Linked DNA regions of Homo sapiens. Each later gene encodes a partner of the first gene's protein in a complex. Each region holds a gene or a part of one and is shown on either strand. Other genes may lie near its edges.

The links. The genes of interacting proteins can lie anywhere in the genome.
Region 2: EXOSC10 (region 1) and DIS3L share a complex: the UniProt entries of both Homo sapiens proteins name them as parts of the RNA exosome complex.

What each region holds. Positions count from the first base shown.
Region 1 is NC_000001.11:11,096,840-11,103,747, reverse strand, and holds the start of EXOSC10 (exosome complex component 10), read left to right. Parts: upstream 1-3,878; 5' UTR 3,879-3,916; coding exon 3,917-4,027; exon of another isoform or gene 4,028-4,073; intron 4,074-5,591; coding exon 5,592-5,728; intron 5,729-6,908. UniProt on the Homo sapiens protein: Catalytic component of the RNA exosome complex which has 3'->5' exoribonuclease activity and participates in a multitude of cellular RNA processing and degradation events.
Region 2 is NC_000015.10:66,289,537-66,296,567, forward strand, and holds the start of DIS3L (DIS3-like exonuclease 1), read left to right. Parts: upstream 1-4,031; 5' UTR 4,032-4,060; coding exon 4,061-4,199; intron 4,200-4,278; exon of another isoform or gene 4,279-4,550; coding exon of another isoform or gene 4,551-4,638; exon of another isoform or gene 4,639-4,912; intron 4,913-5,451; coding exon 5,452-5,605; intron 5,606-7,031. UniProt on the Homo sapiens protein: Catalytic component of the RNA exosome complex which has 3'->5' exoribonuclease activity and participates in a multitude of cellular RNA processing and degradation events.

The DNA.
Region 1 (6,908 bases):
GATATAAGAGTCTGGATTAAGGTCTTTGGTGAATCCGATAGGTTTTAAGTTATATCTAAGCAAAGCCTTCTGGGTGTGTTGAGACAAATTATCAAAGGCAGAGGAGGAGCTAGTGGAGGCCTTTAAATACAGTTTAGTCCAGCCAGGCACGGCAGCTCATGCCCGTAACCCCAACACTTTGAGAAGCTAAGGTGAGAGGATTGCTTGAATCTAGGAGTTTGAGACCAGCCTGGGAAACATAGTGAGACCCTGCCTCTACAAAAAATAAAAAAATTCGTTGGGCATGGTGGCATGGGCCCAGTCTACCCTGGATGCTGAGGCCAGAGGATTGTTTGAGCCCAGGAGTTCAAGCTTACAGTAAGCTATGATTGTGCCACTGCACTCCAGCCTGGATGACAGAGACCCTATCTCTAAAAATAAATACATAAACAAGGATGAAGATCTTTATGATGATCCACTTAATGAATAGTAAATATATTTTCCTTAAAATTTTCGTAATTTATTGTAAGAATACAATACATACACACAATATGTGTCAGTTGACCGTTTGTTATCGGTAAGGCCTTTGGTCAACAGGAGGCTATTAGTTAAGTTTTGGGGGAGTTAAAAGCTATATGTGGATTTTCGACTGCTCAAAGGGATGGGAGCCCCTAATCACCAGATGTTGTTAACAGGTTAACTATTTTTTTCTTTTTTTTTTTTTTTTTTTTTTTTTTTTGGAGACAAGGTCTGGCACTATCACCCGGGCTGGGGGGCAGTGGTGCAATCTCAGCTTACTGCAACCTCCACCTCCCGGGCACGAGTTATCCTCCCACCTCAGCCTCCTGAGTAGCTGGGACTACAGGTGCATGCCATCACACTCGGCTAATTTTTGTATTTTCTGTAGAGACTGATTCTTGCCATGTTGTCCAGGCTGATCTCAAACTGGTGAGCTCAGGCCATCCTCCCACCTCAGCCTCCCAAAGTGCTAAGATTACATGTGTGAGCCACTGCGCCCAGCCAGTTGTATTTTTTAAGAATCAAGGCTGAGGCCGGGCATGGTGGCTTATGCCTATAATCCCAGCACTTTGGGAGGCCGAGGCGGGTGGATCACGAGGTCAGGAGTTTGAGACTAGCCTTGCCCACATGGTGAAACCCCATCTCTTACTTAAAAATGCAAAATTAGCTGGGCGTGGTGGTGCACGCCTGTAATCCCAGCTACTCAGGAGGCTGAGGCAGGAGAATCACTTGAACCCGGGAGGCAGAGGTTGCAGTGAGCCAAGATCATGCCATTGCACTCCAGCCTGGGCAATAGAGTGAGACTTCATCTCAAAAAAAAAAAAAAAAAAGAATCAAGGCTGTAGTGTCAACTTACTAAGTTTCAAATATCAACTGCATCTCATAGTACCTTTGTGACCTTGGATAAGTTACGTAGATTCTCTCTGCTTGTCTCCTCTGAAAGTGTGGGTAAGCCCTACCTTGTGAGGCTGTCTGAAAGACAAGATAATCCATGGAGGAGCATTTAGCACAGCCTGACTGACATGTGGTATTAGGTTGAACCACGTGAAATAGGTCCTCAAAAATACTAAATGAACTAGGCGTTTGTCCTGCCAGAGTACCTGTGTACCTGAAGCACACACACGGAAAAAGTGAAAAGCAAGTATTCTCTTAACTGGATATGCTGAACATTTATTGAAGACTTAATGGGTGGAATGAATTGTATTAAGGGCATCCCATCTCTAATTTCAGGAGAGTGAATCTATCTCTTGAGCTGCCTGATAATTCGGTGCCTCCCTCACAAGAGCTCTTCCAGGAGTTCACTTCACAAATGTGTACTGAGTTCCCACTCTGTGTTAACCAGAATGGTTCCAGCGATGTCTGCAGGAAACAACGTCTGCTTGGAGGAGTTCAGAGGGTACTGGAGGGAGGAAGCACAGTTGGAGCTAGACGCTTTCTTCAGGAGCTTACCTGTAAAGGGCAAGAGAGAGATGATGGCAGTTGGAAGGAGATGTGGGAGCCAGTGTTTTTTCCTTTTCTCTTTTAGTTGGGAAAGATGTCAGTGTACTTGTAGGCTGTTAGGAATGAACCAATAGAGAGGGAAAAGATAGATCCAGGGGGCAGGGGAGGTGTAATTAATTACAGGAGTCAAGACCAAATGGGTGAGGGGAACACAGAACCAGCCAGAGCTTGGGAGGAGGTGACTTTAAATATGAGGCTGGGCCGGGCACAGTGGTTCCTGCCTGTAATCCCAGTGAGGTGGGAGGACGGCTTCAGCCCAGGAGTTCGAGACCAGGTTGGTAAGATGCAGTCTAAAAAAAATAAGCCAGGCGCTGGTGGCGCACACCTGTAATCCCAGCACTTCGGGAGGCCAAAGCAGGTGGATCACTTGAGGTCAGGAGTTCAAGACCAGCCTGGCCAACATGGTGAAACCCCATCTCTACTAAAAATACAAAAAAAAAAAAAAAATTAGCCGGGCATTGTGGCACACGCCTGTAATCCCAGCTACTTGAACCTAGGAAGCGGAGGTTGCAGTGAGCTGAGATTGCACCACTGCACTCCAGCCTGGGCAGCAGAGTGAGACTCTGTCTCAAAAAAAAAAAATAAACAGGGCAGGCACGGTGGCTCCGCCTGTAATCCCAGCACTCTGGGAGGTCGAGGCGGGAGGATCACAAGGTGAGGAGTTCGAGACCAGCCTGGCCAATATGGTGAAACCCCGTTTCTACTAAAAATACGAAAAAAATTAGCCGAGCGTGGTGGTGCACGCCTGTAATCCCAGCTACTCGGGAGGCTGAGGCAAGAGAATTCGTTGAACCCGGGAGGCGGGAGGTTGCAGTGAGCCAAGATTGCGTCACTGCACTCCAGCCTGGGCAACAGAGTGAGACTCCATCTCAAAAAAAATAAAAATAAAAATAGGCTGCACGCTGATGACTCGTATCTGTAATCCCAGCACTTTGGGAGAGCAAGAGTGAAACTTTGTCCCAAAAACATGGTTTTTTTTGTTTGTTTGTGACAAGGTCTCACTCTGTTGCCCAGGCTGGAATGCAGTGGTTCGATCTCGGCTCACTGTAACCTCCACCTCCCGGGCTCAAGCCTCAGCCTCCCGAGTAGCTGGGATTACAGGCATGTGCCACCACGCCCGACTAATTTTTGTGTTTTTAGTATAGACAGAGTTTCACCATGTTGGCCAGGCTGGTCTCCAACTCCCGACCTCAGGTGATCCACCCGCCTCGGCCTCCTAAAGTGCTGGGATTACAGGTGTGAGTCACGGCGCCCAGCCTCAAAAACATAACCTTAAAAAGAAATTTTTGAGACAGGGTTTCATCCTGTCACCCCGGCTGGAGTGCAGTGGAGCCTCCACCTCCTCGGCTCAAGCAACCATCCCACCTCAGCCTCCCGAGCAGCTGGGACTACAGATGCGCACCACCACTCCCGGTAATCCCGGTTTGTTTGTTTTTTAAATTTTTAAATAAACACGAGGATAAGCGGGGATCGTGGCCCTCGCCTGGGGTCCCTGCTACTTCGCAGGCTAAGGTGGGAGGATCTCTTGAGCCCAAGAGTTCGAAACCAGATTGGGCAAACCTCGTGTCAAAAATATATGTGATAGTCAGGTCCTCCAGGCCGCACCCTAGATCACAGGGTTGTTGGGATGATACAATATGAGGTAAAAGAACGTGAAATTCACACCAGAGCGCTCGAAAGTGCCACCCTAATCGCAGGCTTCCCAACCTAATCGCAGGCTTCCCAACCTAATCGCAGGTGCCCCACCCTAAACGCAGGCTTCCCAACCTAATCGCAGGCGCCCCACCCCAATCGCAGGCTCCCCACACTATAATCAGACGCCCCGCCCGCCGCTTCGACCTGGCGCATGCGTGGTGCGCACGCGTCCCGTCTCCTCGGCCGACAAGCTCTCGCGAGACGAGCCGTGCAGGCTGAAAAAATGGCGCCACCCAGTACCCGGGAGCCCAGGGTCCTGTCGGCGACCAGCGCAACCAAATCCGACGGAGAGATGGTGCTGCCAGGCTTCCCGGACGCCGACAGCTTTGTGAAGGTGAGTTCGCGGGGCCTCGGGGGTACCAGGAGTCGCCCGCGGCCGCCGGAAGCCGACTGGGCCCTCTGGGCAGCCAATGCCCGCCCGCCGTAGTGGAGCCCGAGCGAGGGTCGCGGGGCCCCTGTCCGCGCTGGGCGCAGACTCTCCTGCACCCTCCGGGGATGGGGCCTCGGAAACGGACACTGAGGGGCGTCCCGCTTGCGAGCCTAAGTCCATGGAGGCCCAAATGTGGAAAGCCGTCTCGCATCCTGGGAAAGGCTTCCTTGCCACCCAGACGTCCCTAGCCCTTGCGACGTCGCGCTCGCCACGCCCTAGCCACCCGACCAGCTCTCCGCAGGGGCTCGGCTTCTTCGCGCTCCCCACACTTGCCTGGAGTTGTCTCCTCCCGCGGCCAGTATGGCCCTTCTCTTCCTCTGTTTCTGAAGTCCAGTCCTACATAATTTTTAACCCTGAGTTAAATGTCACCTGTTAAAGCCCCATTGCACGTTTATTAGTAACTCCTGGAAGGTATACAGGGCGTTCACTTAAGATCTTTGTATAACTTAGCTTAAATATGAGCAAACGTACAACTAGGCTTAAGGTGTGCATAGCTCTTACAAAGCAATGAAACTAAAATAATTTGTAAATTAACCCTATAAATTTACAGAAATTCCACTAACGTTGTATCTTATCTAATTTGCTGTTAGCTAATGCTATTGATTCATTAACATGGCTCTCAATAGTTCCTGGACCACTAACTGTGGTCCTGGTTGTGTGGCGGTCATGCTCATAAGCTACCATGTTCCCCTCCGTGACTTAATTTCCCACCTCCTTTCTCTGCTTTTTTCTTGGGAAATGTTTATTCACAAAACTCACAATGACGTTTTAGGCCTTCACATGATCAGCCATCATTTATGTCACTTCACGGCTTTTTTTCGTTACCTCACAACAGTTAAAATAGAGAACCACTTGACACTAACTGAACAATAAACACAAATCCAGTTTTAGATAGTAGCTGTTATAAATTTGTCGTCCAAGGATCTAGGATAAGCTTGTATTGTTTTTAGATGCTCATCCAGATGAAAACACAAAAACAAATTCCTGTAGAAAGCTCTTGGATCTGAACTTGAGTCGTAATAATAACGCTTATGTGCCAAGAACTGTCCTAAGTGCTTTTATTAGCTTATTCATTCTGTCCTCACAAAAACTCTGTGGTGCAGGCCCTTTTTATTTTTCCTGTTTCTCAGAGGAGAACACTAAAGTCCAAATAAAGCAATCACTTGTCCAAGATCTCAGTTAATACGTAGCAGAGTCAAGATTCAACCCCAGGTATTTGTGAATATTAATCAGATTATATACGTATGTATTCTGTCTCTCAACTCTCCCAAGAATATAAGCTCCAAACTTGGTTTCCTGTTCAGTATTGTATTCTCAGGGCCTAGATTAGATTGGGGTTTGGCACTAAATGAGTGCTTTTTTTGATGGATGAAGAGTAGATACCTTGTATACGATAGATCAAAAAAATGACATACCAAATGAATGGGGATCCCTGTGTAAACATGCCATCTTTTCTTGTTTTTGACAGTTTGCTCTTGGGTCCGTGGTGGCAGTCACCAAGGCATCTGGGGGCCTACCACAGTTTGGCGATGAGTATGATTTTTACCGAAGTTTTCCTGGCTTCCAAGCATTTTGCGAAACACAGGGAGACAGGTTGCTTCAGTGGTAAGTACTGTACTTTGTTTTCTTGTGTTAGTGAAAAGAAATGAAAACAAAGAAGTAGATAAATTTTTCCTGAAATTTATTTTTCCTTAAACATTTTCTGTGGTATGAAGAGCTATAAAATGTGAAAATTGAAGCAATGGATTTTGATTAGGGAAATATTACTTGGTATATTTTTAGTTTAGCCTTTAAAAAATGTATTGACTTTTGTACTGAAAAAATATATTGACTTTTGTACAAATCTTTTTTAATTAAATGGGACGTGAACACTTAGAGCCAAGATTCTTTTTTTTTTTTGAGACGGAGTCTCGCTCTATTGCCCAGGCTGGAGTGCGGTGGCATGATCTCGGCTCACTGCAAGCTCCGCCTCCCAGGTTCACGCTATTCTCCTGCCTCAGCCTCCTGAGTAGCTGGGACTACAGGTGCCCGTCAACACGCCCAGCTAATTTTTTGTATTTTTAGTAGAGACAGGGTTTCAACATGTTAGCCAGGATGGTCTCGATCTCCTGACCTCGTGATCCACCTGCCTCGGCCTCCCAAAGTGCTGGGATTACAGGCGTGAGCCACCGCGCCTTGCCAGATCCAAGATTCTTTCCCACAACTTGTAGAGTAGCAGGTATTTTTATTTTTATTTTTATTTTTTTTGAGATGGAGTCTCGCTCCATCACCCAGGCTGGAGTGCATTGGCTCAATCTCGGCTCACTGCAACCTGCGCCTCCCAGGTTCAAGCGATTCTCCTGCCTCAGCCTCCCGAGTAGCTGGGATTATAGGTGTACACCACCACGACCAGCTTTTTTTTTTTTGTTGGGGGGGAGTACGGAGTCTTGCTCTGTCGCCCAGGCTGAAGTGCAGTGGCGTGATCTCGGCTCGCAGCAACCTCCACCTCCCAAGATCAAGCGATTCTTGTGCCTCAGCCTCCCCAGTAGCTGGGATAACAGGCATGTACGACCATTCCCGGCTAATTTTTGTATTTTTAGTAGAGGAGGTTTCACCATGTTGGCCAGGCTGGTCTCGAACTCCTGACCTTGTGATCCACCCACCTCAGCCTCCCATAGTGTTGGGATTACAGGTATAAGCCACTGCGCCTAGCCAGTTTTTTGTATTTTTAGTAGAGATGGGGTTTCACCATGTTGGCCAGGCTGGTCTCGAAGTCGTGACCACTCCTGAAGTGCTAGGATTACAG
Region 2 (7,031 bases), on another chromosome or scaffold:
AAGTGAGGCTCTGTCTCAAAAAAAAAAAAAGAAAAAAAAAAACAAAAGAAAAAAGAAAACTGTAGCAGCTTCATGAGGACATTTAATATCTAGTGAAGGATTTTGGAACAAATAGCCCTACACAACTCTTGGACAAGTTCCTTAATCTCCTTTATAAAGAGAGTAATTAGTTAGGGTGATGATAGGTGCGGTAACAAGTTTATTTCTCCCTTACAAGAGTCCACTGTGGGCCAGGCGCGGTGGGTCACGCCTGTAATCCCAACACTTTGGGAAGCCGAGGCAGGCGGGATCATCTGAGGTCAGGAGTTCGAGACCAGCCCGGCCAACATGGTGAAACTTCATCTCTACTAAAAACACAAAAATTAGCTGGGCATGGTGGCTTGCGCCTGTAGTCCCAGCAACTCGGGAGGCTGAGGCAAGACAGTCGCTTGAACCCAGGAGGCAGAGGTTGCTGTGAGCCAAGATTGCACCACTGCACTCCAGCTTGGGCCACTCCGTCTCAAAAAAAAAAGAGAGAGAATCCACTGTGGATGCTCCTGGGTCAAAGGCAGCAGCACTCTGCTGTGAACAGTCCTTCAGGGACCCAAGTTGATGAGGGGCCTGCCATCTCTAATGCTGGCTCTCAAAATCCCCTGGGCATTGGTCTCCCGCTGGTAGAACAGGAAAAGGAGCATGCATGGGAGGTTTTTATGGGCCAGGCTTGGAAATGGTGCCATTATATTCCGCCAACTAGAACTCAGTCACATGGCCACACCTGTGTATCTGCAAGGCAAGCTGGGAAATGTCATTTATCTCTGTGCCCAGAGAAAAAGAGGGCATGGATTTGGCAAACAGAGAGCCAGAACCAGTCTCTGCCACAAGAAATCACATATTTACACTGAAGAGTTGTGATAAAGATTAGAGATAATGTGGTGATATATCCTTGGCCTACGGGGTCATGGAGTTTGGGAAAGACACATCAAATATGAAAAGAGGAGAGCAGTAGAATGCCCAAGCAGAGACCAGATAGTGGGCTGAGCTGAAGTAGTCACAAGCAACAAAGGTTAAGGTGCTGGCAGAGCAGACTGATTCATTTAGGGATAAGGGATTTGAGCTAGGTCACTCAGGTAGTCACTGATGCTGTTCACCAAAGGGCTTCAGTGCTCTGCCCTTCAGGTCATGAGGTGGCACACACTTCCTGCCCCACCCACCCCTATTGTGTGGTCAATAGGCAGAATTGAAATGTGTCACTTCTGGACTGAGCTTTTAATTGCTGGGATGAGACTCTCTGGGGGACTTTTTTCCTTTGCCAATGACCACAGTCTGTGTTCCAGAGAGGGCCTGCTCTATCAGCCTGGGTCCTGGAAAAGGGCACAGAGCAGAGCCTCTTGGTGCCTAGGCAACATCTTGTCATTTTAAGTCACTGAGATTTTTTTGTTTGTTTTTTTGAGACGGAGTTTTGCTCTTGTTGCCCAGGCTGGAGTGCAATGGCACGATCTTGGCTCACTGCAACCTCCACCTCCCAAGTTCAAGAGATTCTCCTGCCTCAGCCTCCCGAGTAGCTGGGATTACAGGCATGTGCCACCATGCCCGGCTAATTTTTGTATTTTTAGTAGAGACAAGGTTTCTCCATGTTGGTCAGGCTGGTCTCGAACTCCTGACCTCAGGTGATCTGCCCTCCTAGGCCTCCCAAAGTGCTGGGATTACAGGCGTGAGCCACCGCACCTGGCCAAGTCACTGAGATTTTTAAAGTTGCATATTACCACAGCATAAACTGGCTTATTCTTACAAGTATAGACACTTTTTTTCAGGCAAGAGGCATCAGATGGCCTGTGAGGCAAACCAACCAACCAACCAACCAACCAACCAACAAAAAGGCACTCTTGTCCATTTTAGCTCATTAGTTCCAAGAATTAAGGAATCATGCTTTTTAAAACATAATTTATACATTATCGCCAAAATGCAAGCAAAAGAAGTGCTTAATGGACCTTGAATTATTTAAAATACTAATAAAGCCAACTTTCAATAGAACTCCAGACACACTCTCTTCCTTAAAAGATCATTTGACCCAATTTGAAGAAAGTTTAAAGCTACCAAGTGCTAAAAAGCGATGTCATGGGCATATTAGTATCTAATCAACACCCCCCCCCCCCCATAACCTGGTATAATCAGAAATAAAAGAAAAATGAACGTGAGGGAGCTTTGAAGGGAACTGTGGTCAGCTGCCTGGAACATATTTATGTAGGGGACAAATCTGGCAACTTGACTGTCCTCTGGGCTGTCCAGAACTGACCTCCTGAATTAGGGACAGCCTCCTGCACTGCTGGTTGCCTTACAGGCCAGCTCTGTGCTGTTTTCCTAATTCGTGCAATTCCACCTCAGATCTCATTCACATCAGCTCACACTGCAGGGTAACTTGACATGGAAGTACAATGAGTGGGAGATCGTGGCTCTCTTTCATGCATTCCTGTAGAGTGACAAGAGCCATCCAACAGAGCATCCTCAGTTCTGCCTGCTTCAGCATCACAGGAAGTCTGATGTTTCCAGCCAGCTGGTTGAGCTGCCTTAACTGGAGCTCACCAAGCAGACTATAAAGTCTCTAAATGCAGGACCTGTATTTTACTCATCTCTGAATAGCACGGTAATTACTTCTGAGCCTCCTTGGAATTCAGTCAGATTCTGGCTTGAATATTGATCCCACCACTTAATAACTGGGTAACCTTGGCCACTTAACTTCCCTAACCCTGTTTTATAGTCTATAAGATAGGAATGATAATGCCCCACTCCTTTGACTTGTTGTGGAAATTAAATGGGACACGTATACAAAGCTGCTAGTGCAGCTCAAAAGTCTTAGTTGAGTGCTTGGAAGAAGAGTGGATTCTATCCCATCAAGGGTGTGTGATCTCAGAAGAGACTGTGTGCATCTCTTTATCAAGAGCTACAGGCTGGGCGTGGTGGCTTACGCCTGTAATCCCAGCACTTTGGGAGGCTGAGGTGGGAGAATCACTTGAGCCCAGGAGTTTGAGACCAGCCTGGGTAACATAGTGAGACACTCCCATCTCTACAAAAAAAAAGAAAAGAAAAGAAAAGAAAAAAACGCTAGGCGTGGTGGAGAAGATCGTTTGTGCCCAGAAGTTCGGGGGCTGCAGTGAGCCATGATCATGCACTATACTCCAGCATGAGTGACACAGCAAGACCCTGTCCAAAAAAAAAAAAAAAATTAATACAAACATGTACGTTTGTGATTGTGTCACAGTGGCAGTTTAAAGGAGAAATCCTTTGCCAGAGGCTGCAAAAGCTATAAAAGTTGGAGTGGAACAGTGCTTCAAGGGAAGAGATTGGTTTTCATTTTATCTGCATTGTTTGATTATATAAGTACATGATAACTTCAATAGGGATACCAAAACAAATAAATAAATTTTAAAAAGAACATGAAAGGCCAGGCGCAGCAGCTCACACCTATAATCCCAACACTTTGGGAGGCCGAAGCAGGTGGATCGCCTGAGACCAGCCGGGCCAACAGAGCAAGACCTGCCCCCCTCACCCTCCCATCTCTACAAAAAAAGAAAAAAACTTTAAAAAAAGTACATGTAATTTTAAATGAATATAACTTTTTAGAAATGTTCGGCTGGCAGGGTTGCCGGCTTATGTGCTGAGTCTTTTACCTCGTTTGGAGATAGCGAGAGCAACGAAGAGAAAACATTAATTACCCGGTATTAGTATTAATACGGCGGCTCCATTCCCACATGGACCTGGGGGGGACAAACAAAGTCTCCTAATCTTGGACAGCTGCGCCCAGCCCTTCTTCACCTGCCGTCCAGGTATCATCCTAGTCTTCCCTCCGTCTCTGGGGTAGGTCGTTTCCACCCCTCCGCCCTGGTCCAGGCCACTGAGGGAAGGGAAGAAACTAAGGCCGGGAGGGCCGGGCCCCAGCCTGGAGCGTGTAGCTCCGGGCCTCCCCCGGGCGCGGCAGTTACGGCGGTTCCGGAGCCGCGGCGCCTAGGGCCGAGGGGCGGGTCCGAGGCCGCGGCCTTGCCTCCGCCGCGCCCGCCACTCCGCGGCCGCCGGGAGACACGCCGCCATGCTGCAGAAGCGGGAGAAGGTGCTGCTGCTGAGGACCTTCCAGGGCCGCACGCTGCGGATCGTGCGCGAGCACTACCTGCGGCCCTGCGTGCCCTGCCACAGCCCGCTCTGCCCGCAGCCCGCCGCCTGCAGCCACGGTCAGGGCCGGGGCGGGGGCGGGGACGGGGCCGGCGGGAGCGGGCGGCCGCAGTGAGGGGCTGAGCGCGGCCGGGAGGCGGAGCGCCAGCGGCGGGGACACGGAGGCGTAGGCCCCGCGGCCTGCGCCCGCTCGCCGGCCTCACCCCCCGGCTCTCTGCCGGTGGGGACCCAGCGGCCCGGGTCCGCGGCTTCTGGGGCGCCCGGGACTCCCTTACTGCTCCGCCCTGTCCAATGGGAGGGCCCGACAGACCCGCACCCCATGCCGGAGGCCGGGTGGTTTGGCTCCTCAGAGGGGCCTGAGGGCGCGGAAGCCGAGGCCTCCTCCCGCCGCAACCTCGCGCCGTGGAGAAATGGGGAGGTCCCGAGCTGGGAGCCCCCGGGAGCTACAGGCCAGCTGCTGCCGCTGCGAAGCTGACATCGCCTGCTTTGCAGCCACAGGTTTCCTGACCTGCCCGCACTGTTGCCCCAGACTTTTCCCCCAGTGGAGAGCCACTTCACCGTAGATTTGTGAACTCTCTGGGCCCGCACTGGAGCGGAAGGTCACGGGGAAGTTGGACTGGGGACTCCTGGGCCCCAGTCCTTGGTTTCTAGGCCACAAGGGTGGCCGATAGAACGATGCACGTTACTGGCTCTCTTCCCCCATGGGAGGATGAGAATGGGCTGGGGGTCCTTGTCAGCGAATGTGTGGAATCCTCCAAACATTGTGATTAAGGTGAACATTTCAGTTAGAGCTTGGCTAACCAGCTCTCAGATGCAGGTCTGGTGGGAAACCTCACCTCTGCACGTTGCTTGCACGGAGCATTTTCTCTGTTCAATCTTTCTGGCCCTTGGAGGCTGCTGAGCACGTGCAGAAGCTTGACACAGAGCCAACTTTAAATTGCTGGGCATCATACACAAGTGGTATAAATGTGGGGGTGCTTCATTTGAATGTGTTTGTCAATGATGAGTTAACACTGAAATATTCAGGTTATGCTGAAAATGTGCTTGTTCGTTGTTAAATCAGCCATCCTCTCCGGCACCTCTGGCAACACCATAAACCACGTTGAGCTTGTATTTATCACAGCTTCCAAAAAAATGAGGGTGCTCAATATACCTGAACTTTGGGCCTCTACCAAAGTAGATTTGTCTTTTAAAAACTCCCACCATGGAGTTAAGACTGGAAGTTATTTTGCATGCCAGAGCACCGTGACATTTAAATAAACCAGGTTTGAAAACATTGTCTAATCTCTTACATTTTGAATTATGTTTCAGATGGGAAACTCTTGTCTAGTGATGTGACTCATTACGTGATCCCAGACTGGAAAGTTGTTCAAGATTATCTTGAGATCCTTGAGTTTCCTGAGTTGAAGGGAATTATTTTCATGCAGACAGCTTGTCAAGCTGTGCAGCATCAAAGAGGCAGGAGGTATACGTTTTGCATTCTTTATTTCTATATGGCATAGGTTCCCCCCACCTTAGAAAAGGTCCCTTGTCGGAGGGGGATGGGAGGAATTCATTATTTTGTCAGAAGGGACTTTTAAAACTAATTTCGTATTCTCTTTGATAGTGAGGAATGCAGTAACATTATTTTATATTTCTGCTTCAACACCTGGCCAAGAGATCTGACTGTAGATTAGTAAACTGCAGTGTCCCCAGTATGTGGGTATTTAAGATTCTAGTGTGAATTGTCTTTTGGCTTGCATTTTTATAGTGGCAGGGTTATTGCTTATTTCTTGTTGATAATGTGTATTATTTAATCTTATTTATAGATACATTGTTTCAGAAGCATACGTTCTTTTCTTGGGGAAAAGAGTACTTTATTTTTAAATTTTAGACTCTTTTATTGGGGATGCAAATTGTACTTGTAATGATTTATTCAATGAAACCAGAAATAGCTTGTTTTATTTTTAGATTACTAGTGTAACTACCAGCCATAGTCATTGTATTTGCTAAACAAAGGCTTTCTAATTGAACAAGTCTAAAATTCTTGCCTAGTACTTAAATGAAGAATAGCTGTCTACCTTTTAAACAAATACTTTGAAAAACGATTTTGCTTCCTTTAATGTTGGGAAAGGTTTATGACTTGAACTTAAAACTGTATGGAAATAGCATATTAGAATTATACGTCCAACCTTTTAACACTCTAAGTTATTTAATAAGCACCAACTATGCATTTATTCTTTTTTAAAATGTTGTGGTTTCTTCAGGCCTTAGTGATAAAAGATGAAGTGTTTTTATTTGTATATGAAAATGGCAAAAAATTGTCCTCTTATTATATGCTCAGTTCAAAAAACATACATTAACCAGATTGTGTGCAGGTTTTTTCAGATAGAATATTTTTAAATGATCTTCAAGTTGATTTTGTTCAGACACCAAGATATAGATGTTTATACACATCCAAATTTAAATGCTGCTCCAGGTGTCATATTTCAGTTTCTGCTACTAAAATCAATTTGTTGTTATCATTCAGATTGCTAACACACTGCGAGCCTTTTCAACTTCTGTTTTCTGAAATATTTTTAATGTTAAGGATTGTTTTAGAAACCAGTTCCTGGGACATTCAAAGACAAAGAGTTGGAATTTAAACGTTTTTTTCTCCTGAACATTTCAAGAGTAGTTAACTTGATGAAAAACTATTGGTTTTCCACTGCCTTACCATGTCTTTGAATATACTAAATGTGAAAACAAAAGATGAGGAGTTATGAAATAGGGCCATATGATAACACCCTGATTTTGTTCGTTGGGTAAGCACTTTTTAAGCTCTTAGTTCCAGGCCTTGGGGAATAAAAAAGAAGTCTTTTTTTTTTTTTTTTTTCCTTGAGATGGAGTCTGGCTCTGTCGCCCAGGCTAGA